Homo sapiens: one gene and its partner. Each later gene encodes a partner of the first gene's protein in a complex. Each region holds a gene or a part of one and is shown on either strand. Other genes may lie near its edges. A codon is read from its position in the direction of its gene.

Region 1 (12,901 bases):
TCTGTTGCCCAGGCTGGAGTGCAGTGGCACAAGCTTGGCTCACTGCAACCTCAGCATCCCAGGTTCAAGCGATTCTCCTCCCTCAGCCTCCCCAGTAGCTGGGATTACAGGCGCTTGCCACCACGCCTGGCTAATTTTTGCATTTTTAGTAGAGACGGGGTTTCACCATGTTGGCCAGGCTGGTTTCAAAATCCTGACCTCAAGTGATCCACCCATCTTAGCCCCCCAAAGTGCTGGGATTACAGGTGTGAGACACCGTGCCCAGCCAAAAAAAAAAAAAAAAAAATTGTTAAAGAAATATCTTCAGGCACAGCCCTCCAAACTCATTCGTATTCATTCAACAAATAAGTATGAACTATATGTCAGGCACTATGCTAGAGGCCACAAAAAACACACAGTCCCTCTTTTACAGATTTTATAGACTAGCAGGGGAGACAGAAATGGATCAAGTAAACACGAGTGTCAAATGTCAAGTGTGCTAAGTGCTAGGAGAGAGGGCCAATGAACTATAAGAATAATAAGATGTGACTTGAAGGGGAGAGCAATGAGCAACAAGAAGAGGAAAAGGTAGGCAGAGGCCAGCCACACCAGGCCCTGTGGGCCTGTTAAATATTTGGGGCTTTTTAAGTTTTCATACCATTTCCCATCTGCTTCCTGCTAGGCATTACGCTACCCGCTTTTTATTTTATTTTATTTTATTTTATTTTTTAGACAGAGTCTCATTCTGTTGACTAGGCTAGAGTGCAGTGGCACAATCTTGGCTCACTGCAGCCTCTACCTCCTGGTTTCAAGCAATTCTGCCTCAGCCACCTGAGTAGCTGGGATTAAGGCGTGCCGCCACTACTCCTGGCTAATTTTTGTATTTTTAGTAGAGACGGGATTTCACCCTGTTGGCCAGGCTGGTCTCAAATTCCTGACCTCAAGTGATCTGCCTGCCTCGGCCTCCCAAAGTGCTGGAATTACAGGCGTGAGCCACCCCGCCCGGCCATGCTACACGCTTTAAACACATTTCCAAACTTACCCTTCACAAACACATTATGAGATAGGAATGATTATCCACATGGGGCTCAGAAAAGGAAAGTCATTTGCCCAGAATCTATGTGACTCTAGAGCTGGCTCCTCATCATCGTGTCTATTGCCTCCTGTTTACCCCTCCATCAGGACTGTGTGTGTCTCTGTCCACGTGGAAGAGCTCCCCACAACTCACTTTGCCCTATTGTAAGTAGTTCAACCTCCACCACCTGTTTCAGAGCCCAAATGCAGTGGCTCTTCCCTGAACTTTTTCAGCACCTACAGCTTCTGTACTTCTGAAATCTTGAATGATGGAAAGTCCCTTCTTTGACCATATACCTCCTGGCCCAGCTCAAAAATCACTGTTTTTTTGTTTGTTTAATTTCTCTGACTTCTCCAGGCAGGGTTAGTCATTCTTGCTTTATGCCCCTTGGCACTCGGTTAATTTTCCTATCTTGGGGTTTACTGCATTCTTTATCTCTTACCTTCCCTGAGCCATCTTGGTGCCTGAACACAGTTCGTGGCCACCGAAGGTGCTCGATGACACTTGTTGAATGAGGGGTTCTATTGCTCCCTTCCCTCCAATTCCCACTTGCCCTCCACCTGCTACTCTGTTATCTACTGGCTCTGCCCGTCTATGTGTACACATGCCTGACACCTCAGACAAGGTGACTCATGAAGGATGCCCCTGACTAGCTTGCCCTGCCTCCTCTGTTACTGTCTTTGCCGCATGTCTTCTGAGTCAGTATAAGGTGGTGGTTATTAGTAAGTGATCCTGAGTCAGACTGCTTGGATTCAAGCTCCACTCCTGCCTCACCGACTGACTTCAAGAGAGTTTCCTTAGTTCTGTAAGGAAAAGCTCTTCATCTGTTAAATGGGGGTGTGACAGGAGCACCTACCTTCTAGGGTTTTCACAAGGATTACAGGAGGCCACATCCACTGGGTCTGGACCACAGTAAGTGCCCAGTACCCTTGATCTAGAGTTACTATTTTTCATGTCAATTGATGCACAGTCTTACTCCTCTACCTATTGTCTTGGCCAGCATCCATCAGTGTGTCTGTCTGCTGGGGAGATGCAGGGAGAAGACTGTCAATTGATCTCTGCTCCCTGGGATGGATCAGCCGTCTCCAGCTTTGTGTACCATCCTTTTCTCTCTGCGTTTCCCCAGGGCTCCCTGTGCCACTACTTGACCCAGTACACCAGTGACTGGGGAAGTTCCCTGCGGATGGCACTGTCCCTGGCCCAGGGCCTGGCATTTCTCCATGAGGAGCGCTGGCAGAATGGTGGGTGAGCTGGGCATAGGAAGTCAAGGGAGCCACAGTGCTATGTTTGTGATTCTGCCTTAGTTTGGAGGGGAAAGATTGGGTCAAAAGAGGGAGGAAGAGCCGGGCACGGTGGCTCACGCCTATAATCCCAGCACTTTGGGAGGCCGAGGTGGGCGGATCACAAGGTCAGGAGATCGAGGCCATCCTGGCTAACATGGTGAAACCCTGTCTCTATTAAAAATACAAAATATTAGCCGGGCGTGGTGGCATGTGCCTGTAGTCCCAGCTACTCGGGAGGCTGAGGCAGGAGAATCACTTGAACCCGGGAGGCGGAGGTTGCAGTGAGCCGAGATCGCGACACTGCACTCCAGCCTGGGCGACAGAGCGAGACGCCGACTCAAAAAAAAAAAAAGAGGGAGGAAGAAAATCCATGTTCCTTCAACCTTGGATTCCCCCACAGGCCAATATAAACCAGGTATTGCCCACCGAGATCTGAGCAGCCAGAATGTGCTCATTCGGGAAGATGGATCGTGTGCCATTGGAGACCTGGGCCTTGCCTTGGTGCTCCCTGGCCTCACTCAGCCCCCTGCCTGGACCCCTACTCAACCACAAGGCCCAGCTGCCATCATGGAAGTGAGTTCTCTGGATAACTGGTGAGGCCCAGGATGATGTTGGTGCTGCTGATGGCAATGCAGCCATTGTGTGTCAACAGTTGTAGCAATACCTATAGCATTTGGGACATTGCTGAGTCTGTAGTTGGGGGGATATTGCATGGACCATTGCTGCAATGAGGATTGCCACAGAGATGATTCTTGGCCCTTCGTGCCTTGCTCTCCAGGCTGGCACCCAGAGGTACATGGCACCAGAGCTCTTGGACAAGACTCTGGACCTACAGGATTGGGGCATGGCCCTCCGACGAGCTGATATTTACTCTTTGGCTCTGCTCCTGTGGGAGATACTGAGCCGCTGCCCAGATTTGAGGCCTGGTAAGGATGGGTGGTACAGTCCCCTCTCCTGGGCTCCCCCCCGCCCATTCTAGGTTCACCCCAACCTGACCTGGCCTGAGAAAGCTCTGCTCTTCCCTGTCTTGCCCTTTCTACATGGTAGGCACCCCTAGGACTAACTGATACCCAGCCCCTCTACCTTCCTCCAGACAGCAGTCCACCACCCTTCCAACTGGCCTATGAGGCAGAACTGGGCAATACCCCTACCTCTGATGAGCTATGGGCCTTGGCAGTGCAGGAGAGGAGGCGTCCCTACATCCCATCCACCTGGCGCTGCTTTGCCACAGTAAGAGGCCTAGGCTGTTGGTCTGGGAACCTGGAGAGTGGGGGCTGGGCATGGGCTTCAAGGACGTCTCTGCCAGAGTGTCTGTCTACTCCTATCTCCACTTATCTCCCATCACTCCTTGGTTCATGCTCAGCTGGAACTGGGCAAGCCTCCTCTCCCCGTCAGTTCATCCTCTTCCACCCTAAGTCTCACACAGTCGATTCCATCTACCTGAGACACACACCTTCCTCCTGCTCAACCTTGCCCAGCCTGTCTCTCCTCTCTGCCATCAGTTAGCCCTGTTCCTCAGTCCCCTTCTCCAGGAAGCCCTCCTTGGCTTTGCTCTTGCCCTGAGCTCTGCCCCATCTGCTCTCCTAATACAGTAAAGCCCAAAAATCAATTCAATAAGTCCCCATTCTGTCATACATTGATGATGTTTCTGCTGTGACCCAATAAAAGGCAGTTCTAGGTATAAAAGGTGAAAGCAGTGGCGTCACAGTGAAAGTTCAGGGCTTTGCACAAATACTTTTTTAACAAAATGTCCCTTCTGTACCTGATCTGAAATTTCCACGGCACAAGTCTTAGGTTGGCTGACAGAAACTGGGCATTACTTGCAGAAGACTCTGGCTCTCTGAGAGGAAAGAGAGTAATTTCCCATTAGCATATTAAGCTGTCAACCTACATTAGCTCCTCAGAGGAAACAGTGGGCTATACAGAAGGCCCCCAGAGAGCCTGTTTCATAGGGAGCAAGACTCAGAGGGCTGGAATTCAGCAAGAGGGAGAGGAGGGAGGCTCCAGGAAAGATCAGAAGTGGATGTTGAAAGCAGGAGAGTGATGGACACTGAAGATGGCTTTTAACCCTGGGGCCCACTCAAGATCCTAGGGTCAACCCTTCCTCCCTGTCATTCCCCCCAGGACCCTGATGGGCTGAGGGAGCTCCTAGAAGACTGTTGGGATGCAGACCCAGAAGCACGGCTGACAGCTGAGTGTGTACAGCAGCGCCTGGCTGCCTTGGCCCATCCTCAAGAGAGCCACCCCTTTCCAGAGAGCTGTCCACGTGGCTGCCCACCTCTCTGCCCAGAAGACTGTACTTCAATTCCTGCCCCTACCATCCTCCCCTGTAGGCCTCAGCGGAGTGCCTGCCACTTCAGCGTTCAGCAAGGCCCTTGTTCCAGGAATCCTCAGCCTGCCTGTACCCTTTCTCCTGTGTAAATATGCAGTTTATGTGTCATCAATGTACATGCCAACATAAATATGGCGATTGTATAGCTGTCTTGTCTGCCTCATCACTGCATTTCCCACCTGCCGAATCCTTGGATTCTTCTGCGGGCATCCAGTCCACATCAGTTCTGACCAGTGACTTGGGGTAGGTGTGCACAGGAAAGAGAATAAAGTCAGCTTTCCTGATGCATATCCTTGGTCCTTCCTCTATTCCTGTAATCCAGGGACCCTCTTGTCTCTCTTCTTTTCCACTAACATTTATTTTTATTTATTTATCTGGTTTCTTTTTTTGGAGACAGAGTCTCTGTCCAGTCTGGAGTGCAATGACACGATCACGGCTCACTGCAGCCTTGTCCTCCCTGGGCTCTTGTGATCCTCCTGCCTCAGCCTCCTGAGTAGGAGGGACCACAGGCATGGACCACGATACCCAGCTATTTTTTTTTTTTTTGAGACAGAGTCTCACTCTGTCACCCAGGCTGGAGTGCAGTGGCACAGTCTCGGCTCGGTGCAAGCTCCGCCTCCCGGGTTCACGCCATTCTCCTGCCTCAGCCTCCCGAGCAGCTGGGACTACAGGCGCCCACCACCACACCCGGCTAATTTTTTTTATTTTTAGTAGAGACGGGGTTTCACCCTGTTAGCCAGGATGGTCTCCATCTCCTGACCTTGTGATCTGCCCACCTCGGCCTCCCAAAGTGCTGGGATTACAGGCATGAGCCACCGCGCCCCACCTGATTTTTTATTTTTTGTACAGGTGAAGTCTTGGTATGTTGCCCAGGCTGGTCTCAAACTCCTGAGCTCAAGCAGTCCTCCTTCCTCAGTGTCCCAAAGTTCTGGGATTACAGGCATGAACCACTGCACCCAGCATTTTAAATTGTTTATTATTTTTTAAATTTTATTTATTTATTTATTTAGAGACGGGGGTCTTGCTCTGTCGCCCAGGCTAGAGTGCAGTGGCACGATCTTGGCTCACTGCAAGCTCCGCCTCCTAGGTTCATGCCATTCTCCTGCCTCAGCCTCCTAAGTAGCTGGGACTACAGGCGCCCGCCACCACGCCCAGCTAATTTTTTTGTATTTTTAGTAGAGATGGGGTTTCACCATGTTAGCCAGGATGGTCTTGATCTCCTGACCTTGTGATCTGTCCGCTTCAGCCTCCCAAAGTAAATTGTTGATTATTTTTATTTTTATTTTTGAGATAAGCTCTTGTTCTGTTACTCAGGCTGTGATCATAGCTCACAGCATCCTTGACCTCCTGGGCTCAAGCGATCCTCCCAGCTCAGCCTCCCAAGTAGCTGGGACTACAGATGTGTGCCACCACACCTGGCTAATTTTTGTATTTTTTCATAGAGACAAGGTTTTTCCATGTTGCCCAGGCTGGTCTTGAACTCCTGGGCTCAAGCGATCCACCTGCCTAGGACTCCCAAAGTGCTGGGATTACAAGTATGAGACACCACACCCAGCCTCAACATTTATTTTTAAAGGTGGGATCTCATGGTGGGCACTGGGGAAAGAAGGGTAAAGACAACAAAATCACTGCCCTAACAGTGCTTAAAGACCTGCACACCACATTGTTGGGTTCCTGTACGCTGTCCTGGGGGTAACAGGAGAGACTTGAGCAGGAATGCTTCACAGAGCACAGGATGCTTGAGCTGTGTCTTAACTGAGAGGAGTTTCCCAGGAGCATGTTCTTGTCCCTTTCTGTGACCCAGCTCTCATCCACATCCAGTCAGTTCTCAAGTCCCACTGAGGCAGCCTAGGCAGGGGCTACTTCTCCTTTTTCTTTTCTTTTATTTTTTTGAGACGGAGTCTCGCTCTGTTGCTCACGCTGGAGTACAATGGCGGGATCTCAGCTCACTGCAACCTCTGCCTCCCGGGTTCAACTGATTCTCCTGCCTCAGCCTCCCAAGTAGCTGGGACTACAGGCGCCCGCCACCACGCCCAGCTAGTTTTTTGTATTTTGTAGTAGAGACGGGGTTTCACTATGTTGGCCAGACTGGTCTCAAACTCCTGACCTCGAGATCCACCCGTCTTGGCCTCCCAAAGTGCTGGGATTACAGGCATAAGCCTCTGCACCTGGCCTTCTTTTCTTTCTTTTTTTTTTTTTTTTGAGACGGAGTCTCACTCTGTTGCTCAGGCTGGAGTGCAGTGGCGCAATCTTGGCTCACTGCAAACTCTGCCTCCCGGGTTCATGCCATTCTCCTGCCTCAGCCTCTGGAGTAGCTGGGATTACAGGCGCCCACCACCACGCCCAGCTAATTTTTTGTATTTTTAGTAGAGACGGGGTTTCACCATATTAGCCAGGATGGTCTCGAACTCCTGACCTCAGGTGATCCACCCTCCTCGGCCTCCCAAAGTGCTGGGATTACAGGCATGAGCCACCGTGCCCGGCTCTTTTTCTTTCTTAATCAACCTACATCATACTTTGATGGGCAGGGCCTGCTTCTGGGCACCATCCCTCTTTCCTTCTTCCTAGGCCTGGCAGGGCCCAACTACTACAGTTACCCCTTGGTAGGTTATGTTTCCCCTGATCTAGGCTAAACAGTACTCTTTGGATATTCTTTATTTTTAAAAGAAATTTTTTTTCAGATGGAGTATTGCCCAGGCTGGAGTGCAGTGGTCCGATCTTGGCTCACTGCAGCCTCCATCTCCCAGATTCAAGCGATTCTCCTGCCTCAGCCTCCCAAGTAGCTGGGACTACAGGCATGTGCCACCATGCCCGGCTAATTTTTGTATTTTTCATAGAGACAGGTTTCACCATGTGGGCTAGGCTGGTCTCAAACTCCTGACCTCAGGTGATCCATCCACTCTGGCCTCCCAACGTGCTGGGATTACAGGTGTGAGCCATTGCACCCGGCCTGGATAATCTCCTAACTTTCATTATGTCTTGCCTCTGCTCAACAGTGTTCTTGGGTTTTTCATGACAATCCTGTGAGTACCATTTACAGAGGAAGAGGGCTCAGAGAAATTTAGAAACACATCTAAGGTCACACAGCTTTTAAATAACAAAGCAAAGACTTTCAGCCCTTAAAAATGTTTGGCTGGGCACGATGGCTCACGCCTGTAATCCCAACACTTTGGGAGGCTGAGGAGTGCGGATCACCTGAGGTCAGGAGTTCTAGACCAGCCTGGCCAACATGGTGAAACCCCATGTCTACTAAAAATACAAAAATTTGCCAAGTGTGGTGGCACGTGCCTGTAGTCCCAGCTACTCAGGAGGCTGAGGCAGGAGAATGGCTCGAACCTGGGAGGTGGAGGTTGTAGGGAGCCGAGATCGCACCACTGCACTCTAGCCTGGACTCCGTCTCAAAAAACAAAACAAAACAAAAAAAACCTGAGCCCAGTGGCACGCGCCTGTAATCCCAGCACTTTGGGAGGCCGAAGGGGGCGGGTCAAGAGTTCGAGACCAGCCTGACCAACATGGTGAAACCCTGTCTCTATTAAAAATACAAAAGTCAGCTGGGCGTGGTGGTGCGCACCTGTAATCCCAGCTACTCAGGAGACTGAGGCAGAATTGCTTAAACCCGGGAGGTGGAGGATGCAGTGAGCTGAGATGGCACCACTGCACTCCAGCCTGGGCAACGGAGCCAGACTGTCTCAAAAAAAAAAAAAAAAAGAAAGAAAGAAAGAAAAAAAGAAAAGAGTGTACAAACATGCTGATGAGCATAAGGCTATGTTCAATCAAAAGTAAATCTATGGGCTGGGCGTGGTGGCTCACACCTGTAATCCCAGCATTTTGGGAGGCCGAGGCAGGTGGATCACCTGAGGTCAGGAGTTTGCGACCAGCCTGGCCAACATGGTGAAACCCCGTCTCTATTAAAAATACAAAAATTAGGCTGGGCACGGTGGCTCACCCATGTAATCCCAGCACTTTGGGAGGCTGAGGTGGGCTGATCACGAGATCAGGAGATCGAAACCATCCTGGCTAACATGGTGAAACCCCATCTCTACTAAAAATACAAAAAATTAGCTGGCTGTGGTGGCCGGCACCTGTAGTCCCAGCTGCTTGGGAGGCTGAGGCAGGAGAATGCATGAACCCGGGAAGCGGAGCTTGCAGTGACCCGAGATTGCGCCACAGCCTGGGCGACAGAGCGAGACTGTCTCAAAAAAAAAAAAAAAAAAAAAGGAGATTGCTTAAAGCCAAAAAATATAGGTTATAATCTTGTCTCTCCTAACTGTGAACTCTTAGAAAAGTTTATTTTTCTCAGGAAATTGAATGAATGTTTCTCTAAGTCATTTCCAACCCTATAGTTCCATGATTCTGTGATAAAATGATAAAATATGAAAGTCCCAATTGTGAAGATGAGTTTACCAAATCCAGTGTTTGCCTAATGTGATATTCCCATGAGTAGTGATTGCATGCTTGTGGAGAAGTATTAGGCATGTAAATACACTTTTTAGAAACTGGGCCCGGTGCAGTGGCTCACGCCTGTAATCCCATTACTTTGGGAGGCGGAGGCAGGCAGATCACCTGAAGTCGGGAGTTTGAGACCAGCCTGACTAACATGGAGAAACCCCGTATCCACTAAAAATACAAAATTAGCCAGGCGTGGTGGCACATGTCTGTAATCCTAGCTACTTGGGAGGCTGAGACAGGAGAATCGCTTGAACCTGGGAGACTGGGGTTGTGGTGAGCCGAGATCACGCCATTGCATTCCAGCCTGGGCAACAAGAGCGAAACTCCATCTCAAAAAAAAAAAAAAAAAAAAGAAAAGAAAAGAAAAGAAAAAGAAATGTCTGGAGTAGGCAAACTTTTTTTTTTTTTTTTTTTTTGAGACAGAGTCTTGTTCTGTTGCCCCCAAACTGGAGTGCAGTTGTGCGATCTCGGCTCACTACAACCTCTGCCTCCCTAGTTCAAGGGAGTCTCCTGTCTCAGTCTCCCAAGTAGCTGGGATTACAGCGCATGCCACCATGCCCGGCTAATTTTTGTATTGTTAGTACAGATGGAGTTTCACCACATTGGTTGGGATAGTCTCAAAATCCCAACCTCGTGATCCACCCGCCTGGTGACCTCCCAAAGTCCTGGGATTACAGGTGTGAGCCACCGCACCCGGCCAATACTTTTTTGAAACTTGATAATCTTCCAAGAAAGAAACAATGTGTATATCTAAGTTTCCTAGAGTTTAGAAAACCTTCCAAATTATTTCAAGTATTTTGCACAAACCTAATATAAAAATATATCAAAATGTAGTATTTGTTTGTTTTTGTTTTGTTTTTTTGAGATGGAGTGTCCCTCTGTCACCCCGGCTGGAGTGCAGTGGCATGATCTTGGCTCACTACAAGCTCCGCCTCCCAAGTTCATGCCATTCTCCTGCCTCAGCCTCCTGAGTAGCTAGGACTACAGGCATCAGCCACCACGCCCCTCTAATTTTTTGTATTTTTAGTAGAGACAGAGTTTCACCCTGTTAGCCAGGATGGTCTCGATCTCCTGACCTCGTGATCTGCCCGCCTCGGCCTCCCAAAGTGCTGGGATTACAGGCGTGAGCCACCGTGCCCAGCCTGTTTGTTTTGAGACAGGGTCTCATTCTGTGAGTGAGACTGGAGTTCAGTGGCATGATCTTGACTCACTGTAACTTCTGTCTCCCAGGCTCCAGTGATCCTACCACCCCAGCCTCGTAAGTAGCTGGGATTATGGGCGCACACAACCATGCCCAGCTAATTTTTCTATTTTTTGTAGAGACAAGATTTCACCATGTTGGCCAGGATGGTCTCGAACTCCTGAGCTCAAGGGAATCCACCAGTCTCAGCCTCCCAAAGTGCTGGGATTACAGGCATGAGCCACCCCACTCAGTCAAAAGATAGTCTTGTTATGTAAGATACTATCACTGGGGGAAGCTGGGTAAATTTTACAACTTCTTGTGAGTCTAAAATTATTTCAGAATAAAAGAACACTGTCTAGGCAATACCACTCAGGACATAGGCATGGGCAAAGATTTCATGATGGGATCACCAAAAGCAATCGCAATAAAAGCAAAAATTGACAAATGTGATCTAATTAAACTAAAGAGCTTCTGCACAGCAAAAGAAACTATCATCAGAACAAACAGGCAACCTACAGAATGGGAGAAAATTTTTGTGATCTGCCAAAGTGTCTAATATCCAGAATCTAGAAGAAACTCAAACAAATTTACGAGAAAAAAACAACCCCATTAAAAAGTGGGCAACGGCCAGCCTCCCCGTCCGGGAGGGAGGTGGGGGGCGGCCCCCGCCCGGCCAGCCGCCCCGTCCGGGAGGTGGGGGGTGCCTCTGCCCGGCCGCCCCTTCTGGGAAGTGAGGAGCCCCTCTGCCCTGCCGCCACCCCGTCCGGGAGGTGTACCCAACAGCTGATTGAGAACGGGCCATGATGACGATGGCGGTTTTGTCGAATAGAAAAGGGGGAAATGTGGGGAAAAGATACAGAAATCAGATTGTTGCTGTGTCTGTGTAGAAAGAAGTAGACATAGGAGACTCCATTTTGTTCTGTACTAAGAAAAATTCTTCTGCCTTGGGATGCTGTTGATCTATGACCTTACCCCCAACCCGGTGCTCTCTGAATCATGTGCTGTGTCCACTCAGGGTTAAATGGATTAAGGGCGGTGCAAGATGTGTTTTGTTAAACAGATGCTTGAAGGCAGCATGCTCGTTAAGAGTCATCACCACTCCCTAATCTCAAGTACCCAGGGACACAAACACTGGGGAAGGCCGCAGGGTCCTCTGCCTAGGAAAACCAGAGACCTTTGTTCACTTGTTTATCTGCTGACCTTCCCTCCACTATTGTCCTATGACCCTGCCAAATCCCCCTCTGCGAGAAACACCCAAGAATGATCAATTAAAAAAAAAAAAAAAAAAGAGATAGGAAAAAAAAAAAAAAAGTGGGCAAAAGGCCAGGTGCGGTGGCTCACGCCTATAATCCCAGCACTTTGGGGGGCCGAGGCGGGCGGATCACGAGGTCAGGAGATCAAGATCATCCTGGCTAAGAGGGTGAAACCCCGTCTCTACTAAAAATATAAAAAATTAGCCAGGCACGGTGGCGGGTGCCTGTAGTCCCAGCTACTCGGGAGGCTGAGGCAGGAGAATGGTGCGAACCTGGGAGGCGGAGCTTGCAGTGAGCCAAGATCGTGCCACTGCACTCCAGCCTGGACAACGGGGCCAGGGCGAGACTCCGTCTCAAAAAAAAAAGGGGGGGGCAAAGGACATTAACAGACATTTCTCAAAAGAAGATATGCAGCCGGCCGGGCGCGGTGGCTCACGCCTGTAATCCCAGCACTTTGGGAGGCCGAGGCGGGCGGATCACGAGGTCAGGAGATCGAGACCATCCCGGCTAAAACGGTGAAACCCCGTCTCTACTAAAAAATACAAAAAATTAGCCGGGCGTAGTGGCGGGCGCCTGTAGTCCCAGCTACTTGGGAGGCTGAGGCAGGAGAATGGCGTGAACCCGGGAGGCGGAGCTTGCAGTGAGCCGAGATCCCGCCACTGCACTCCAGCCCGGGCGACAGAGAGAGACTCCGTCTCAAAAAAAAAAAAAAAAAAAAAAAAAAAGAAGATATGCAGCCAACAAACATGAAAAAAAGCTCAACATCACTGAACATTAGAGAAATGTAAATCAAAACCATAATGAGATACTATCTCATGCCAGTCAGAATGGTGATTATTAAAAAGTCAAGAAATAACAGGCCAGGCCTGGTGGCTCATGCCTGTAACCCTAGCACTTTGGGAGGCCAAGGGTGAGTGAATCACTTGAGGTCAGGAGTTTGAAACCACCCTGGCCAGCATGGTGAAACCCTGTTTCTACTAAAAATACAAATATATATATGTATATATATATGGCAGGTGTGGCGGCAGGCACCTGTAATTCTAGCTACTCGGGAGGCTGAGGCAGGAGAATCGCTTGAACCCGGGAGGCAGAGGTTGCAGTGAGCTGAGATCCTGCCACTGCACTTCAGCCTGGGCGACAGAGCAAGACTCAGTCTCAAAAAAAAAAAAAAACCCAAAACCAAAATCCAGATGCTGGCAAGGTTGTGGAGAAATAGGAACATTTTTACACTGTTGGTGGGAGTGTAAATTAGTTCAACCATTGTGGAAGACGATGTGGCGATTCCTCAAAGATCTAGAACCAGAAATACCATTTGACCCAGCAATCTCATTACTGGGTGTATACCCA
Region 2 (15,405 bases), on another chromosome or scaffold:
GCCTGTAGTCCCAGCTGCAGGCGCTACGTCTCCCTGGGTGGCAGTGGCGAGTGCTGAGTAGGAGCAATGCCCTGCCCTGCTGCAATGGCAGGGAAGGGTGGGGGACTCCCCGGCTGTGACCTCACTCCAGCGGGCATGCTGATTGGCCCACCCGCGGTCTCTGGCCACCTGTTGCCGTCCATCACGGGGCCACCCTCCCCATCCTCCGTCCTGTCCACAAGGCTCAGCAAAGCGGCTGGCGGGTAAGCGAGGCTCGGGGGTAAGGAAGTGAGGCTGGGGGAATCCCGGGCAGAGGTGTGGGCTCCCGGGGTGTGAAGGGGTGTTGCAGAGGACTGTAAGGGTCCCCAATTCCTGGAGCTGCCCCCATGCACACCCAGGGGCCACACACCAGCCTCCCATGCTTCTTGGGCCCCTCCCCCACTGCCACGCAATAGGCCCCTTCCAGGTCTTGGAGCCCCAGGGCTGGGTGGTTTTTCAGCCTAGATACAGGGACACCCTAATCCCAGCAGCCAGAGGCCATGGGGACCCTGAAGAGTACAGCTTTGGGTCTGACTTGAAGCTCCTTGCGACCTCCAGCCAATGGCACTGTCTCTAGCCTCGGTTTCCTCATCTGTCCTATGGGAACAGAGTTAGTGGGACAAGGCAGGGTACTCTGTGTCAGGATCAGAAGACCCCCAACCACAACCGGGACCCTCCTCCCCTGCCCCGGCCTGTCACGACCAGAGCCAGGATGGTTCTGCTGCTGGGGCCTGAGCCTGTAGACTCACAGGGTCACGCAGCAGGATGTGGGTGCCCAGAATGGCAAGTCAGGGTGGCCCAGAGGGAGACCCCATGAGAGCAGAGGCCTGGGAGGGGCTGGGGCACCTGTTAGCCTGTCCCGCTGGCCTCAGGCACCAGATAAAAATAGTCCCTGGTCTCAGAGAACATGAGCTGACTCTGGGGCCAAGAGTTTCGGTTTGGGGTGCGTCTGGGACTCATTGCTGTGTTGTCCTGCAGGGGCTCCCGCCCTCTCTGGGCCAGAGCAGCCTGGGCTACTGTACTGATGGATACTGGACCCCAGTGAGGCTGGGCGGTAGGGAGGGGTCCCAGGGCAGGCATGCGGGGTCAGAGAGATGCCTGGAGTGGGCGCCGGGCCATGCCTGGCATGAGTATGAATTTGCCGAGTGAGGAGGGGTGGGAGGACGGGGCCTGTTAGTTGGTGTCCGCAGAACCTCCAGGTCAGGCCCAGGCCTGTGGCAGAGACTCAGTAAATGCAAGACCTTGTTCCCCACCCCTCCCAGCCTGGCCTGGGACCTGCTGCTGCTCCAGCCATGTCCATGACAACCAGAGCCTGGGAGGAGCTGGATGGCGGCCTGGGCAGCTGCCAGGCCCTGGAGGACCACTCTGCGCTGGCCGAGACCCAGGAGGACAGGGCTTCAGGTACCCTTGTGGCGCTGGCGGGAGGAAGCCCTTCCCTGATGGTCCCCTTGAGCCAGGAGGCCCATCTTCAGAGACTAGAGCTTCTTAGCCTCCCACACTGGACTGGCTTATAGTGTGCTCCCCATGTTCAACCCCTGGCCCTCATTTCTGCCTCAGGGGTCTGTAAGGAGCCCCCAAGGAAGACAGGTGCTGGGCCACACAGATCTAGGTTCGAATCCCACGTTGCCACTGAAATGCTGGGTGTCTTTGGGCAAAGCTGTCTCCAAGCCTGTCTGCTTTCTTTATATTTTTATATATTTTTATTATTATTTTTTGAGACAGAGCCTCATTCTGTCTTCCATGCTGGAGTACAGTGACATGATCATAAGTCACTGCAGCCTTGACCTCCCAGGCTCAAGTGATCCTCCTGCCTCAGCCTCCCAAGTAGCTGGGGCCACAGGTGCAGGCCACCATGCCTCGCTAATTTTTTTTTTTTTTTTTTTTTAGAGATGGGGTCTCACTATGTTGCCCAGGCTGGTCTCAAACTCCTGGGCTCAGGTGATCCTCCCACCTCAGTCTCCCCAAAATGCTGGATTCCAGGTGTGAACCACTGTGCTGGCCTCCACCTACTTTCTTATCTATAAGATGGGGTTAGTCACCCGCACGTCACCCAGCAGGGCCAGGGGAGAGGGTGGGATTGGCCTGGGGGTCCCCACAACCTTGACTCTGCCTGTGTTCCCACAGCGACACCCAGGCTGGCCGACTCCGGCAGCGTGCCCCACGTGAGTAGCTGGGACCCTCAGCCTTTAACCCAGGACGCCTGGGGAGTTGGGGACAAGCCGACCAAGGGAGGCAGGTGTCTAAAGCCCACGGGAAGGGTTTGGCACTGGAAGGAAACATGTGGAATGTCTCGTGATAACCACAGGACTCTCAGGTGGCTGAAGGCCCCAGTGTGGACACCAGGCCCAAGAAGATGGAAAAAGAGCCTGCCGCCAGGGGGACCCCAGGAACGGGGAAGGAGAGGCTGAAAGCCGGAGCGAGTGGGTTTGCAGGAGGCATGGGTGAGGTGTGGGGTGGGAACGGACTGGTGTGAGGCTCAGGTGCCGGAGCTGGGTCCTTGGATCTTGGAGGGTGGTGTCCTGGTTGAGTGGCGTCGAAGTGTGGCAGGCAGCGAGTCAACGGGCAGGGAGCCTCTACTAATGCGTAATAATACCAGCTATGCCACTCAGCTCCGGGAAGTTACCTTCCAGAAACTCTAGGCATCCCCGTGCAGCTGCGGGGCACCCGGGGCTGGGTTCACCTGCGCCCGGGGCCGCACAGGCAGGCAGAGAGAGCCGGGTTCAGGGCACAGGCCTGTCTCTTGTCCCCTGCGCCCGGGGAAGGGGGCGGCACAGAGCCAGTGACCACAGCGCAGCGCGCACTTGCCCCCGCAGGCCCTCGGAGCGTCCCCGCGCGCAAGAAGGCGCAGACCGCGCCGCCCCTGCAGCCGCCGCCGCCGCCCCCGGCCCTGAGCGAGGAGCTGCCCTGGGGAGACCTGTCGCTCAACAAGTGCCTGGTGCTCGCCTCGCTGGTGGCGCTGCTGGGCTCGGCTTTCCAGCTGTGCCGCGGTGAGCGCAGGCTCCCCAGAGGTGGGGCGAGGCTGGGGTCCACCTGTGCGCCTATTCCTCCAAGGAAAGGCGCTGTGCCGCCAGGGTGGGGTCTGGGAGCCTCCTCTCCAGGGCTGGGTCTTGCACGCCCCCAAAGTTGGTTTGTGCATCTCCCCTTAAGTGACGGGCCTTGCGCGCCCCTCTCACCCGGTGTGGACCTTTTGCGGGGCCCATTCCCCTCGCCGCGAGTAGGTTCTGGCTTCCGGATGAACCTTGTGCAACCCCTCCTGCCTCGTAGCGTTCTGCCGCCTTTCCCCTGCGCCCTCTCTGGGGACCGCTCAGCTCGTGAGCGCCCCCCGGGGGCACTCCTGCGACCCCTCCCTTGCTAGGGGCCTCCTACAGCCCGTGGTCGGGGGGAAGAATGACCAATTGAAAGAGCGAGGTTCGGAGAAGGGGCGCCGCGGCAGCGGAGTCCCGGAGTCCCTTCCCACGGCTCGGGGGCATCCTTAGTCTCAGCCGTACCGGGGGAGCCCCACTCCAACTGTCCAGGGAGGGGGGCTCTAGGGGTGAGGGAGGGATGGACAGTGTGGACCGTGCCTCGGCCCAGCTGACTCGGGTCCCGACCCTGTCGCTGCAGACGCCGTCCCTGGGGAGGCAGCACTCCAAGCACGTGTGCCCGAGCCCTGGGTCCCGCCAAGCTCAGCCCCGAGGGAGCCATCGTCGCCCCTGGTAAGAGCTTCCTTCCACTGACCGCGGGCATTGGGACCTTCATCCCCAAGGAAAGAAGGAGCCCGGGCCGGGGGGAAGGTGGGCGCTTACCCCAGGACCCCACTCTGTCTTGCAGCCTAAGTTCGAGGCCCAGGCGCCTCCATCAGCGCCGCCTGCGCCCCGGGCCGAGGCAGAGGTCAGACCCAAGATTCCCGGGAGTCGGGAGGCTGCAGAGAACGACGAAGAGGAGCCCGGCGAGGCCACCGGAGAGGCCGTCCGGGAGGACCGTGTGACCCTCGCAGACCGGGGACCCAAGGAGAGGCCTCGGAGAGAGGGGAAGCCGCGGAAGGAGAAGCCGCGGAAGGAGGAGAGACCTAAGAAAGAGAGGCCGCGGAAAGAGGAGAGGCCACGGGCCGCCAGGGAGCCCCGGGAAGCCCTACCCCAGCGCTGGGAGTCACGCGAAGGGGGCCACCGGCCGTGGGCACGGGACTCCAGGGACGCCGAGCCCAGGAAGAAGCAGGCCTGGGTGTCCCCGAGGCGTCCCGACGAGGAGCAGCGGCCTGGGAGTCGCCAGAAGCTCCGCGCAGGCAAGGGGCGGGACTGAGCCGGCCCCGCGCCGGAGTCCAGGGGCCCCTTCTGGACGCCCCGCGACTCTGGCGAAATAAAGCGAGTGCTGCGGCCGCAGAGTCACCTGCTCCTTTACGCCTGGACCCGGCACCAAGTCCGGGGCCTGAAAGACGGTGGTGGGGCGCTTCAGGCAGGGGAGAGACAGCGAGCGCTACAGGGCGGACCCGGGCCGTGCGCGAGGAGAGACGGCAAGGGAGGTCCCACGGGCCCCCTAACACGCACGGACACCCCAGCCGGTTGCTTGCTGGTCTTTATTGGGGCGATGCTTGGGGTCCGAATAAATATGGGAAGGGGCGCGAGCTGGGGCGCGTCCGGACCCTCGGGGCAGGAGTCCGCGCGGCGCAGGGGTCACCGGCAGCCACACTCGGTGGCCACCATGTTGGGCACGTGGTGCGCGCTGATGCGCTCCTCCGACAGGCTGATGAGCAGCTTGCCCGCGTAGGCGGTGGGCACGCAGCAGGGTGGGCGCGCCAGGGCGGCCCCACGGACCTGCATCTTCAGCAGCAGCACCACGTGGTTGCCGTAGCGCGGGTTGCGGTCGGACTGAGGCCAGCCGCACACGCCCTGGCAATTGTTGGCCTGGTAGGTCTCGGGGATGAGTACGGAGCGCTCGGCGCGGAGGTCTACGCTGAGCTCGCGCAGCGCGCACGGCCCGTCGGCGGCGGTGGCCCCCGCGCTGCGCTGTGCCCGACCCGGCCCGCGCGGATCCCGCCCGCGCCACTCCACGCGCAGGCCCTGCAGCGCCTTCAGGAGCAGCAGCGCTCGCAGGGGATCGCCGAGGCCGCCGGGGCCACCTGGGCAGAGCGCGAGCAGGCGCGCCAGCAGCGGGGCTGTGGCCGGAGGCAGACCCGGGAGGCTTCGCAGCTCGGCAGCCGCCGCTTGCAGTTCAGCAGCCACGCGGCGCGCCAGGGCCGTGGCCCACGGCGCCGACGTGGGGTCGTGCAGGGGCGCAGGATCCCCGGTGGTGGCCGCAGTGGGCCTCAGCAGCAGCAGCAGCGGCTCCTCGCCGTCGAGTAGGCGCTCCAGCGCCGCGGGGTCCGACAGGTTGACTAGGCCCTGCGGGAAGCCGGCCAGCGCGTCCGGATCCAGGGCCAGGCGCGGCGCGGAGGCCCGGGCCGGGGGGACCCGCAGCGCCCGCACCAGGCGCGTGAGCGTCTCCAGGAAGGGGTCTGCGCTGGGTGGCGACTCCTCGAGTTCCGCGGATGGCCTGGAACCCGCAATTGGAGGAGTTGAGAGCGGCCACGAGGCCACGCCGCCCCCGCCCGCTCCTGCCCCGTGTCCCGGTGCCTGCGCGCACCTGGGCGGCGGGAAGGGCACGGTGTCCAGCTGGCCGTGCGCAGGCAGCGGCGCGGGCTCGGACCGCGGCAGCAGGAGCAGGGCCGGGGTCATCCGTGTGAAGCAGCGGTGGTCGTCGCCGAACAGCAGTGCCTGCAGCCGGGCGGTACTCAGCCGGGAGTCTGCGGTGGGTGGGCACGCGGCTGGCTCAGGGGCTGGGGGCCCGGGGGCAGTCGACCCGGCTCCCCGTCCCTCTCCACGCGGACCTACCCTCTCCGCGGGGCTGCAGGGTCAAGGCCAGCCCGGAGCCGCGCCAGGCCCCCGCAGGGCGGTCCACCGCTAACACCAGGTAGCGGGTGTCTCGGGAGGGGCAGAGGCTCTGCGGAGACCAGGGCTCAGCCCGGCTGGATGGAGGCTTACCCAGCCCCGCTCTACCGGTCCCCTTCCTCCCATCGCCACTGGTTCTACGCTGTTCTCAGTACTGCAGACCCTGCAACAAATCCATGCCCCCCGCCACGGCCCGGGCACTGCCCCATGCAACTCCCTGGTACCTGGGCACCCGGCAGCCCAGCCCTCGTCACAGTGACCTCAGGGCCAGGCCCAGGGTACAGCACCAGCAGCGCCAGCTCTGGGGGGCCAGCTCCTCCAGGCGGGGGCTCCTGGAACCTCAGCGAGGGTGTTGGCTCCCAGGTCACTGCAGCCGGGACAGCAGGGGACGCCTGAGCCATTGAAGGCCACACCCCCCGGGAATCTTTGGGATCTGTCCCTGCCGCTCTGGCCACTGTGCAGGGGACCTCAAGCGGGGGACAAGGGTGCCCCTCTTAGCTGCCTTCCTGCAGCCAGGGAGCGGTGACGGCAGGGGCAGGCAGGGGCTGCGTCTGAGGCTGTGGGTGGGGCTGCCGCCCTGGGGTCTCTGGGTTGGGGTGCCCGATGAAGCCCCTTCCCCGCAGGGAGTATCTTAGGCCAGCGGCCCTGAGAACAGGCTGGGGCTGTGGGAAGAAGGGTTCCACTGGCCCCGAGCCCTGCGTCGTCTTCAGGGGTGGGGAGAAGGCAGCAGCTCTCTCCCTGGCACCGAGGCAGGGGCAAGTCTAAGAGCTGGGCTTCGGGGACAGGACAGAGTGTGGTGCCCACCTTCCAGGCCACGGACCCGCAACCCAGTCCTAGGAACAAGACCACAGCCTCCCTGCCCAGGGTGGGGGCTCTGCCAGCCCCTGATCTTCCCTAGGAGGACCCGGCCCACCTGAAGGAAGACGGCGGTGCCAAGCTTGGGGCTGGGCCCCACATACCTTCCTCCAGGTGTAGGACCACCAGGCGCTGCCCCCCAGGGTCCCGCAGCCAGGCCCCCAGCCGCCGTAGAGAGGGCAAGGCAGCCTGCCTGTCACCGGTGTTGCAGACCCCGAAGGTGGCCAGGTCTCGGGGGCCCCAGCGGGCCCTCTGCACGGCCCCCAGGAAGGCCTGCTCATAGGCGCTTAGAGCCCCCACCACCCGCAGGGGGGAGCTGCTGCCATTGCTGTCCCCGCCCAGTGCCACCAGGCACAGAGGCTCTTGTGGGCTGCCTGGAGGCCAGTCCAAGTCTTCTCGGAAGATGAGGCCACTGGTGCCCACAGCTGGCTCCTCTGCTCTGAGGGCCTCAGTCCCCAGCAGAGCCCCCAGGGCAGACAGCACTAGGGCCAGGCTGGTGAGAGGCAGGTCCCGCATCGTGGGTGCTGCCAGGGGCTGGGCTGCCTGCCTTAAGTGAGCCGAGTGGAAGGTGGGGTGTTTGTGCAGGACAGACCCCTATCTCCTCTGCCGCGACCTTGGGGGACAGTGCCCGGCGCCCCCACTCCAGGCAGAGTGGCCTTCTCAAAGAGCCCTTTCTGTCCCTGGCAGCCTATCTCCCTCCCCAGTGATAGAGCTGGGCCTGATGTGTCAACATGCCGTCCTTGAGGGCCATCCCCAGAAGACACAGGAGTGGGAACCAGGCTGGGAGTGACGGCCAGGCAACCAAACTAGACAGCGCTGGGGGCGGGGGGCCCAGATGTCCTGGGTGCTGAGGTGTGGGCCTGGAGGAGGAGGGTCCCAAGTCAGTGGGGGCGCCCTGTCCCTGCTCACCCTCCCCACCCCTGGTGGGCTATCTGGAGACCCCAAGGATATCGTGGAGTCTGCTCTTCCCTCCCCAGAACAGGACCCCAGATCCCCTCCTAGCTGGCTGGTGGGGTCTGTCCTCCACCAGGCCATCTCCAAGGTACAGCCATCTCTCAGGCCTCCCACAGGTGTCTCCTGGCGGGCCCCAGGCCCTCCCCAGTCGGCCCAAACTGGGGGATGGTGCTGTGCCTGGCACTCCCACACACACTGACACAGTAGGGCGGCGCTGCGGACATCAGTGCACTCAGGGCTGGGGGAGGCTGTTTAATGAGCGGGGGGCAGTACAAAAGAGCAGCCTTCTCTCAGTGGGAAAAGGCAAGAGCACCTGGCGCTGGGCTTGCTGGGGGAGGGAGCAGCTTCTCAGTTGGTTGGGGGAGGGGGAGGTATGTTCCCTGGGCCTTCGGAGGGAAGTGGGGGCCTCAGCATTGGGGGCATGGGAGTTGGGGGGTGCACCCCAGGATTTGAGGGGTGAACTCCCGGAGGCTGAGGGTGGACCCCAGGAGCCGACGGATGGACCCCGGGAGGTTGGGGGTGGACCCCCGGGGCCTGAGGGTGCATCCCTGGGGCTGGTGGGTGCACCCCTGGGGCCTGAGGGTGAACGGCGGGGGCTGCTGGGTGCACCCCCGGGGCCTGGGGGTGAACCCCCGCTGATGGGGGAGGATGGACCCCTGGGGCTGGTGGGTGAACCCCAGGGGCTGGTGGGTGGACTCCGGGGGCTGGTGGGTGAACCCCGGGGGCTGGAGGGTGGACTCCAGGAGCTGGGGGGTGGACCCCAGAGGTTGGTGGGTGGACCCCAGGGGCTGGGGGATGGACGCCAGGAGCTGGGGGGTGGACGCCAGGAGCTGGGGGATGGACCCCAGATGCAGGGGGATGCACCACTGGGGCCGGGGGGTGGACCCCTGGAGCTGGCGGGGGTAGCTGGGGTGGTCCCGGGGGCCCTGAGGGCGCAGGCCCTGTGGGGGGCATGGGTGGCAGAGGCAGGCCTCCTGGCGGGGGCGGTGGCAAAGACTCAGGCAGCGGTGGCCGAGGGGGCAGACCGTTCATCAGCGGGGGTGGAGGCCGCTTCACCCCAGGGGGGCCAGCAGGGAGGCTGGGTGGAGCCGGGGGCTTCTCCATCTTAAAGTGGAACTGGAGGAAGAACTAGAGAGACGGAGAAAGGTTCAGCAGGCACGGGTGGGGCTAGGGCAGGGCTAGGGCCGCCAGGGCTGGGTGGGAAGGAGCCAGGCTCGGGGCGAGCCACTCACCTGCTTGGTCTCCCGGTTCCAGTGTGTCCAGAACTTGCCCTCCGCCTTGTCGATCTCTCTGCTCGGCACCTGGGAGGGCGGGGGACAGAGAGGGCTCCTGGTCCCTGTGACCTCAGGGCGACCATCAGGCAGGGAGCCCGAGGCACTAGCCTCCCCAGCCCGGACTCTACCCTGGGAGCCCAGGAGAAGGCTGGTAAGACTTTCGTGGGGCACAGGGTTCAGTTCTGGAGTGAAACAGACCTGGCCTCAATGCTAGCACGCTGTTGGCCCCCTCCCTGGGCAGTCACCGTTTGTATTATTTGTTTCCTGATGGCCGCCCTGTCCAGGCATGGGGACAGGCTGTAGGAAGCCCTCCAGCAGCCTGGCCCAGGAAGTGAGGTCACTTGGCAAAGGCCTCACAGGCCTGGCGCTCAGCCCTGCCGGCCTCCCTTCTCATTGGCCCAGTGGAGCCCAAGCAGGCCCTCCTGCAGAGCCCAATGGGAGAGGTGCCCTGCCCGGCCTGTGCAGACCCTTCTGGCTCCGACTTGGGGGGGGCCCAGGGGACCCCAAGCCCGATGGGAGGGGCATCCTGCCCAGCCTATGCAGATCCTTCTGGCTTGCACATCTCAAGGGGGCCCAGGGAACCCCGCAGCCACGCTACCTTGAAGGCAATGGTCTCGTAGGGCTCGGCGGCCATGAGCAGGTACTGCCAGCGCCGGTCCGGAGGCTCGATCCTCTGCTCGTACGCAGACATGAAGCGGTGACGTGGCATGATGCCCTCGGCGATCTCAGGGTAGTCAATCTGCAGGGACACGGCCGGGTGGCAGAGCCGCCTCTTGGGTGCCTTTGGCCGCCCCCCACGCCCAAGTCCCTGATCTCACCTGGAAGAGGAGGCTCTGCTGGCCCATCTCCGAGTCTCTCTGCTTGGTCACTGCAACACAGAAAGCTCTCAGGTCCCGGCTGCTTGTCCTCTCCGAAGCTGAGGAACCTGGGGCAGGCTAATGCCACCCACTGAACGAGAGCGGGACCCCGGGGGAGGCCCTGCAGCTCTGGCAACCATTAGACAATCTCCGCCCAGGCTCTGGGATTCTGGTATAGGTGAAGGCACAGGTGCGCCAGAGCTGAGCTACCTGCGGAGTCACTCAGGCAGGGACCGAGGATGGTGCTCCTTTGTCCCAATCCCCAGAGCCCTTCACCAGGGGTGCTGGGATACCACCCAGCAGGAGTTGGGGCCACTGGGTAGGGAGGGGCCCTCGGCACCCTGGCTCTGGGATTCGAGCGGGGCCGCCTGAACAGGGCTGACACCATGTATACGGTGAGCGAGAGAGGATGCCCTTCCCGCCAGAGCTCAGCAGCCTGGACCCCGAGAATGGCTGCTGGGCTGCCTGCCGCCCGGCCACTCTCCATGCGGCCTCAGACACGCACACTCACAAGCCCTCTGCCGCCTCACCGTCCTGAGCCCAAGCCCAGGACCTGTCAGGGCCTCCCCACCAGGAGCCTGCCGCTCTAGCCACCCTCGCCCACCCGGTGCACCTGCCCCGGGACCTCTGCCCTGCAGGCTTCTGTCTGGAGGCCAGGCACACAGGCTGTCCCCGCCTTCTGTAAAGAACACTTGCTGGGTAGCGTGCCCGCCTTCCTGAACCCTATGGACACAAGTCTCTATCTTCCACCCTGGTCACTTCCCCAGCTTTCTGAACCGGGGTCACCTCTAGCCATTCCCACTGCTGAGGGTCCGGGAGGAGCTGCCTCTAACAGCCGCTTCTCCCTGTCCTCCTTCAAAGGCTTCAAGGTTAACCGGAGGGATGTGCCAGGGCTCACCACACCTCCACTTCCACTCTTTTGCTTGGCAAGAATTCCCAGAAGCTTCCACAAGACCCGGACAGGAGGGCACAGACTGTGGCTCAGCTGGGAAATGGGCTGCTGGGTGAGATGGGTGCTTATCGGGCCCAGCCTGACAGCTCCCAGACACAACGCCAGAGGCTGCAGGTGGGTGAGGGACGGCCACCAAGGCCGGAAAACAGTGGCTCAGGGAGGAGGCTATCAGGGCTGCACCTCCCGCACTGGAGACTAAAGAACACACTTATGTCACGGCAGCGGCTGTGGCCGGCCCCGCTGCGGGCAGACTCACCTTTGTAGCCCGGGCGGCCGATCTTCACAAACTTCTTCACCTCCACCTTGACCTTCTCAGGCGCGGGCTGGGCAGGGGCCTCCTTGGCCTCCTTGGCTGCTCGCCGGGCCCTGCGGACAGGATGGAGGTGCTGCTGGGACCCCTCCACACACAGGCACCAAAGCCATGGGCCCAGGTGCCAGGAGCCCCCTGACCTTGGAGCTCACTACAAGCTGAGAGATGAGGAGGGCCAGGGGCCTGGGAGGGGCCCTGGGGTTTGGCTGAGGACAGGGATAGGACAGGCATGTTCTCTTCCTGTCATGCTCCTCACTGTCCCTGGCTGGGGCCCTTCCAACAACTCCATGCCTCTGCTCTTTTTTTTTTTTTTTAATAAGACAAGAGTCTCACTCTGTCGCCCAGGATGGAGTACAGTGGCAGCACCTTGGTTCACTGCAATCTCTGCCTCCCAGATTCAAGATTCTCCTGCCTCAGCCTCCATAGTAGCTGTGATTACAGACGTGTGCCACCATGCCTGGCCTAATTTTTGTATTTTTAGTAGAGATGGAGTTTCACAATGTTGGCCAGGCTGGTCTCGAACTCCTGACCTCAAGTGATCTGCCCGCCTCAGCCATCCATGCCTCTGTTCTCTAATGCTCCCCAGGAACCGTACTCAAGCGCCCAGGGAGGCTCAGGCCAGGCTGGCTCCCCGGCTGTGGAGCAGTGGCCCGCGAGGCTCACAGAGACTTGAGCCAACGGCTGCTGGAGCACCAGGCATCAAAGGGACATGAGGTACTCACAGGTTGGTCTGGTGCTTCTTCCCCTGCGTATGTGCCAGGTAGCTCCCCTGGAGTGGAAAGGAAACACGCATGACTCGAGGCCGGGCGGACAGACACAGGCAGGTCCCCCTGACGTCAGCCACTCAGCCCGCCGCGAGCCGCCCGGAGCCAGGCAGAGGCCGCACCTCATTGTTGTGAAGTGTCAGGCAGAGTTTGCATTCATAGGAGCCCAGGTGGTTCTTCATGAAGTACGGGTCCTGGAGGGGAAGAACAGGGGCCCGTTAGACAGAAGATCGCGGCCTGCTGCCGTCAAGGCCCTCAGAGGCGGGATCCCCTTTCTGTAGAGGCATGGAGGCAGAACCCCCCTTCTGTAGAGGCATGGCTACCGCTGACAGTGGTCAAGCATTTCTGAAAACGGGGGATCCAGCGGGAGGCCTTCGTGAGCACGGGTGTCACCACCTGGGGCTGTGGGCCAGGCTTCGAGCAGTGGGGGTTCCCAGGGAGCCCCCGACACCACCTTCCTGGTGGTTCTGAGTCAGAGGGAGGCACAGCCAGGACAGCACCGCCGGTCACTCCCGAGGCAGGGAGCCGTCCACTGCCCACGCCACCACGCCAGCAGTAGGCACAAGGCAGACACAGGCACAAGAAAAGCAAATGGGCTACACTGAAGACCCAAAGACCCGCCCATCTGCAGGCCCTAAGCTGGGGCAGCCGGGCGCACACATCTCGTCTCAGACGCTGGAGTTCAAAGTCTAACTCCACCATCTGCGGCTGTGGCACCCCCTCTACCCATGACCTCATCTGGAAGACGGGGACGGTAACAGAGCCCTTGCCATAGGCCAGGCCCGTGGGGCATGTCAGGGTACACAAAGAGTGCTCCAGCCCCGATGTCCACGGTGCTGAGGGGACTCGGCTCACCCCTGCCTCTGCACAAGCTAAAATCAAAGGCTGCCCTTCACCACATCTGGCTGGACTGACATCAGCTCTCCCCACTCCCAGAAAATTAAATAATGCAAAACAGAAGGCTGTGGACAGAACAAAACATGTCCACATGGGACTCAGAGCCACAGAGGGTCTGCTCTCTGGGGTGGACAGATGGGAGCTGTGGCTGCTCGGGGGCAACAGGGGAGCGTCTGGACACGGGGCTGCATCGCCCAGCCTGGGCGGAGGCCCAAGAAGAGCCTCTGGCACCCTCTCCAGGGCTGCCCTGGAAAGCCCAGCACCCACCACAGGCAGCTGCACGGTGGCTGGCCCACCTTGTTGATGTCGATGGTCTCCAGGGCCAGCTGCCGGAGGCGCTCCCTGCGGTCACGGTTGCTCTCGGAGGAGGAGGCCACGCCCCCGCTCCCGGTCTTGCCCCCGGGGCGATGCTGGAAGTCCATGGTGATGGCCTTAGGGCTTTAGCAGACTGGGAGACACCTGTGGAGGCCAAGAGGAGAGTGAGGAAGATGGCTCAGAACTCGGGGCTGCTGCTGGGACCTCCCTGGGCGGGCTGGGCTGGAGCCCTCGAGACTGCCCCTCACCCTGCACTCCCAGCGCCAGGGTCTAACCAGCCCTGAGGGGGCCACCCCATAGCGCACCCAGTCTCTTCCAGGAGGCTGAGGCCCACTGTGGACAGGCACAGACACAAGGAAGCTGGAGCCTGTCTCCAAGTGACCAGGCATGAGGGATGGAGAGGAAGCCGCTCCAGCCCAGGGTGCCAAGGCCTGGAGACCTGAAATTGTAATAGGGAGCCCAGAGAAGGCATAAAGGGAAGACAAGACCAAGATCTCACAAACGAGTCACCACCTCCAGGAAGCCATCCCGGACTGCCCAAGCCCCTAGTGTTCACGCCTTCCTCTGAATTCCCTCTCTGGTTGGCTACGCTTACTTGTCCCAACCTAATCTCTTGGGCTCGATGTAAATTTGTTAGGCGGAGATCAGTGAGGACACTGATCTTCGCATCCTCACTGAGTAACACCTGGGAGATCTGCCACATCTGCTTGTGGCGCAGGGGGCTCTGCTGAGTCCCCAACATCCTCTTCCTGATGCAGGCCTCTGCCAAGGTCTCCCACGCCCTTTCAGGCTCTGTGCAAATCTGAGTTCCAGGCAGCCTCCTCTCATCTCCTGGTAGTCTTTCCCTTGCCTGCTCAATGTTGGCCCCGGGCCCTGGTTTAAGGGTCTTGGGTGAGCTCAGAGAGATGGGGCCCATGAGACTGAGTGAATCACTGCCCCCAAAAGATGTCCACATCCTAATCCCTGGGACCTGTGAACATGTCCCCTCATGGCAGAAAAGGGATGTGCAGGTGGGCTTGAGGATCTTAAAATGGCAGGTGATCCTGGGTGACCTCATGAGAGGAGGCGGGAGGCTGAGAGTCAGAGAGGCTGCGCTGTGGCTGTGAATGGGGAGGAAGGGGCCCCGAGGCAAGGCACACAGGTGCCTCTGGACACTGGGAAAGGCAGGAAACGAGTTGTCCCCCAGAGCCTCCAGAAGGAATGGAGCCCTGTGGACTGTTTGGACTCTGACCCCAGAACCAGAAGCTGATACAGCCGTGTCATCTGAACTACTGCGTCTGCAGTGATGTGTCACAGTGTCTGCAGGTGTGCAGGGGCACGCTGAGGGACAGGGCACAGTGGCCGCAGGTGTGCAGGGGCACGCTGAGGGACAGGCCACAGTGGCGGCAGGTGTGCAGGGGCACGCTGAGGGACAGGCCACAGTGGCCGCAGGTGTGCAGGGGCATGCTGAGGGACAGGCCAGCTGTACTGCTGACTTGTGGTGGGGCCTGAAGTCACCCCTTACTCTATGGGGGCCCAGGAGCCCTCCCCAACCAGTTTTTATTCCCTGGGCAAGTTTATGAAAATGATCAAGCATGGTAACTGGTGAGGTGGACCTCCCAGCTCACTGCAGTATCACGGCTGCCCCATCAGAAGTTCAGATGTCACAAAAGCCCACCTAGAGATGCCCATTTTTACATGTTGTCACGTAAACTTCGAGAAACCACCACTGTGACCATCGCCATCCCTTCACAAAACAAAGAACATTCCAGTGTGAAAAAGGAGACTGTGACACCAGAAGGACTGTCCTTTGCTGGGAACGCCACCCTCTGGCCCCAAGGAACCCTCCCCGCCTCGGGCTTCTTGGCCACACATTCTTCAGGACCAGGGAGAACTGCACCCTCTCCATGCTGGCGCCGTCAGCTGCAGGCCACGCCAACTCCTACAGTCCCTGCTGCCACAACAGCTTACAGCTGCCTGGGAGGTTCTGTCTCCGGACGGCCCACAGGCGGGCAGGATTGTGTGGGTGCCGCCCGGACAGGTTCATGAAGTGCCTCATTTTTCTCTGGAGGACATTCAAGCATTTCCTGGTCAAGTGACATGAAACTCACATCAGGGGACGTGCGTGGGGAGCCCAGCAAGCAGCCTCCCACCAGGCCGCAGCCGCACTTGCCTCTCCACACATCACAGAAACCACAGTCCTCCACGCATCTCAGCACCGAACCAAGCCCTCGCTCGGGGGAACGTGTGAGAAGGCAGGGAATCGGCCTTCTTTCACGGATGCACTCCAAGAACCCAGGAGGGGCCTGGTGCTGAGAGGCACTCCC

What was found.
Region 2: the proteins of AMHR2 (region 1) and AMH are in contact, whole or in part, in a crystal structure (PDB 7L0J), measured with the Homo sapiens proteins. Residues at the interface, in NP_065434.1 of Homo sapiens: Gly31, Val32, Arg33, Gly34, Ser35, Thr36, Thr38, Leu39, Phe62, Ile64, Glu75, Met76, Arg80, Asp81, Ser82, Glu84, Pro85, Ser95, Arg97, Ala98, Pro100, Ser101, Leu106, Thr108; in NP_000470.3 of Homo sapiens: Leu471 (codon at 4,940), Arg472 (codon at 4,937), Glu474 (codon at 4,931), Val477 (codon at 4,922), Leu478 (codon at 4,919), Ile479 (codon at 4,916), Pro480 (codon at 4,913), Glu481 (codon at 4,910), Thr482 (codon at 4,907), Tyr483 (codon at 4,904), Gln484 (codon at 4,901), Lys534 (codon at 4,751), Leu535 (codon at 4,748), Ile537 (codon at 4,742), Leu539 (codon at 4,736), Glu542 (codon at 4,727), Arg543 (codon at 4,724), Ile544 (codon at 4,721), Ser545 (codon at 4,718), Ala546 (codon at 4,715).

The regions. Positions count from the first base shown.
Region 1 is NC_000012.12:53,426,716-53,439,616, forward strand, and holds the end of AMHR2 (anti-Muellerian hormone type-2 receptor isoform 1 precursor), read left to right. Parts: intron 1-1,161; coding exon of another isoform or gene 1,162-1,218; intron 1,219-2,180; coding exon 2,181-2,295; intron 2,296-2,737; coding exon 2,738-2,910; coding exon of another isoform or gene 2,911-2,930; intron 2,931-3,115; coding exon 3,116-3,263; intron 3,264-3,430; coding exon 3,431-3,567; intron 3,568-4,461; coding exon 4,462-4,758; 3' UTR 4,759-4,957; downstream 4,958-12,901. UniProt on the Homo sapiens protein: On ligand binding, forms a receptor complex consisting of two type II and two type I transmembrane serine/threonine kinases.
Region 2 is NC_000019.10:2,241,220-2,256,624, reverse strand, and holds AMH (muellerian-inhibiting factor preproprotein), read right to left. Parts: upstream 7,303-15,405; 5' UTR 7,293-7,302; coding exon 6,881-7,292; intron 6,289-6,880; coding exon 6,146-6,288; intron 5,987-6,145; exon of another isoform or gene 5,974-5,986; coding exon 5,865-5,973; intron 5,777-5,864; coding exon 5,617-5,776; intron 5,527-5,616; coding exon 4,668-5,526; 3' UTR 4,552-4,667; downstream 1-4,551. Other genes in the region: JSRP1 (junctional sarcoplasmic reticulum protein 1), read left to right, coding at 1,311-1,419, 2,143-2,180, 2,324-2,438, 2,832-3,005, 3,622-3,713, 3,829-4,296; SF3A2 (splicing factor 3A subunit 2), read right to left, coding at 8,079-8,858, 8,963-9,031, 9,603-9,743, 9,823-9,872, 11,070-11,179, 11,846-11,892, 12,010-12,081, 13,081-13,206. UniProt on the Homo sapiens protein: Plays an important role in several reproductive functions. Induces Muellerian duct regression during male fetal sexual differentiation. Also plays a role in Leydig cell differentiation and function.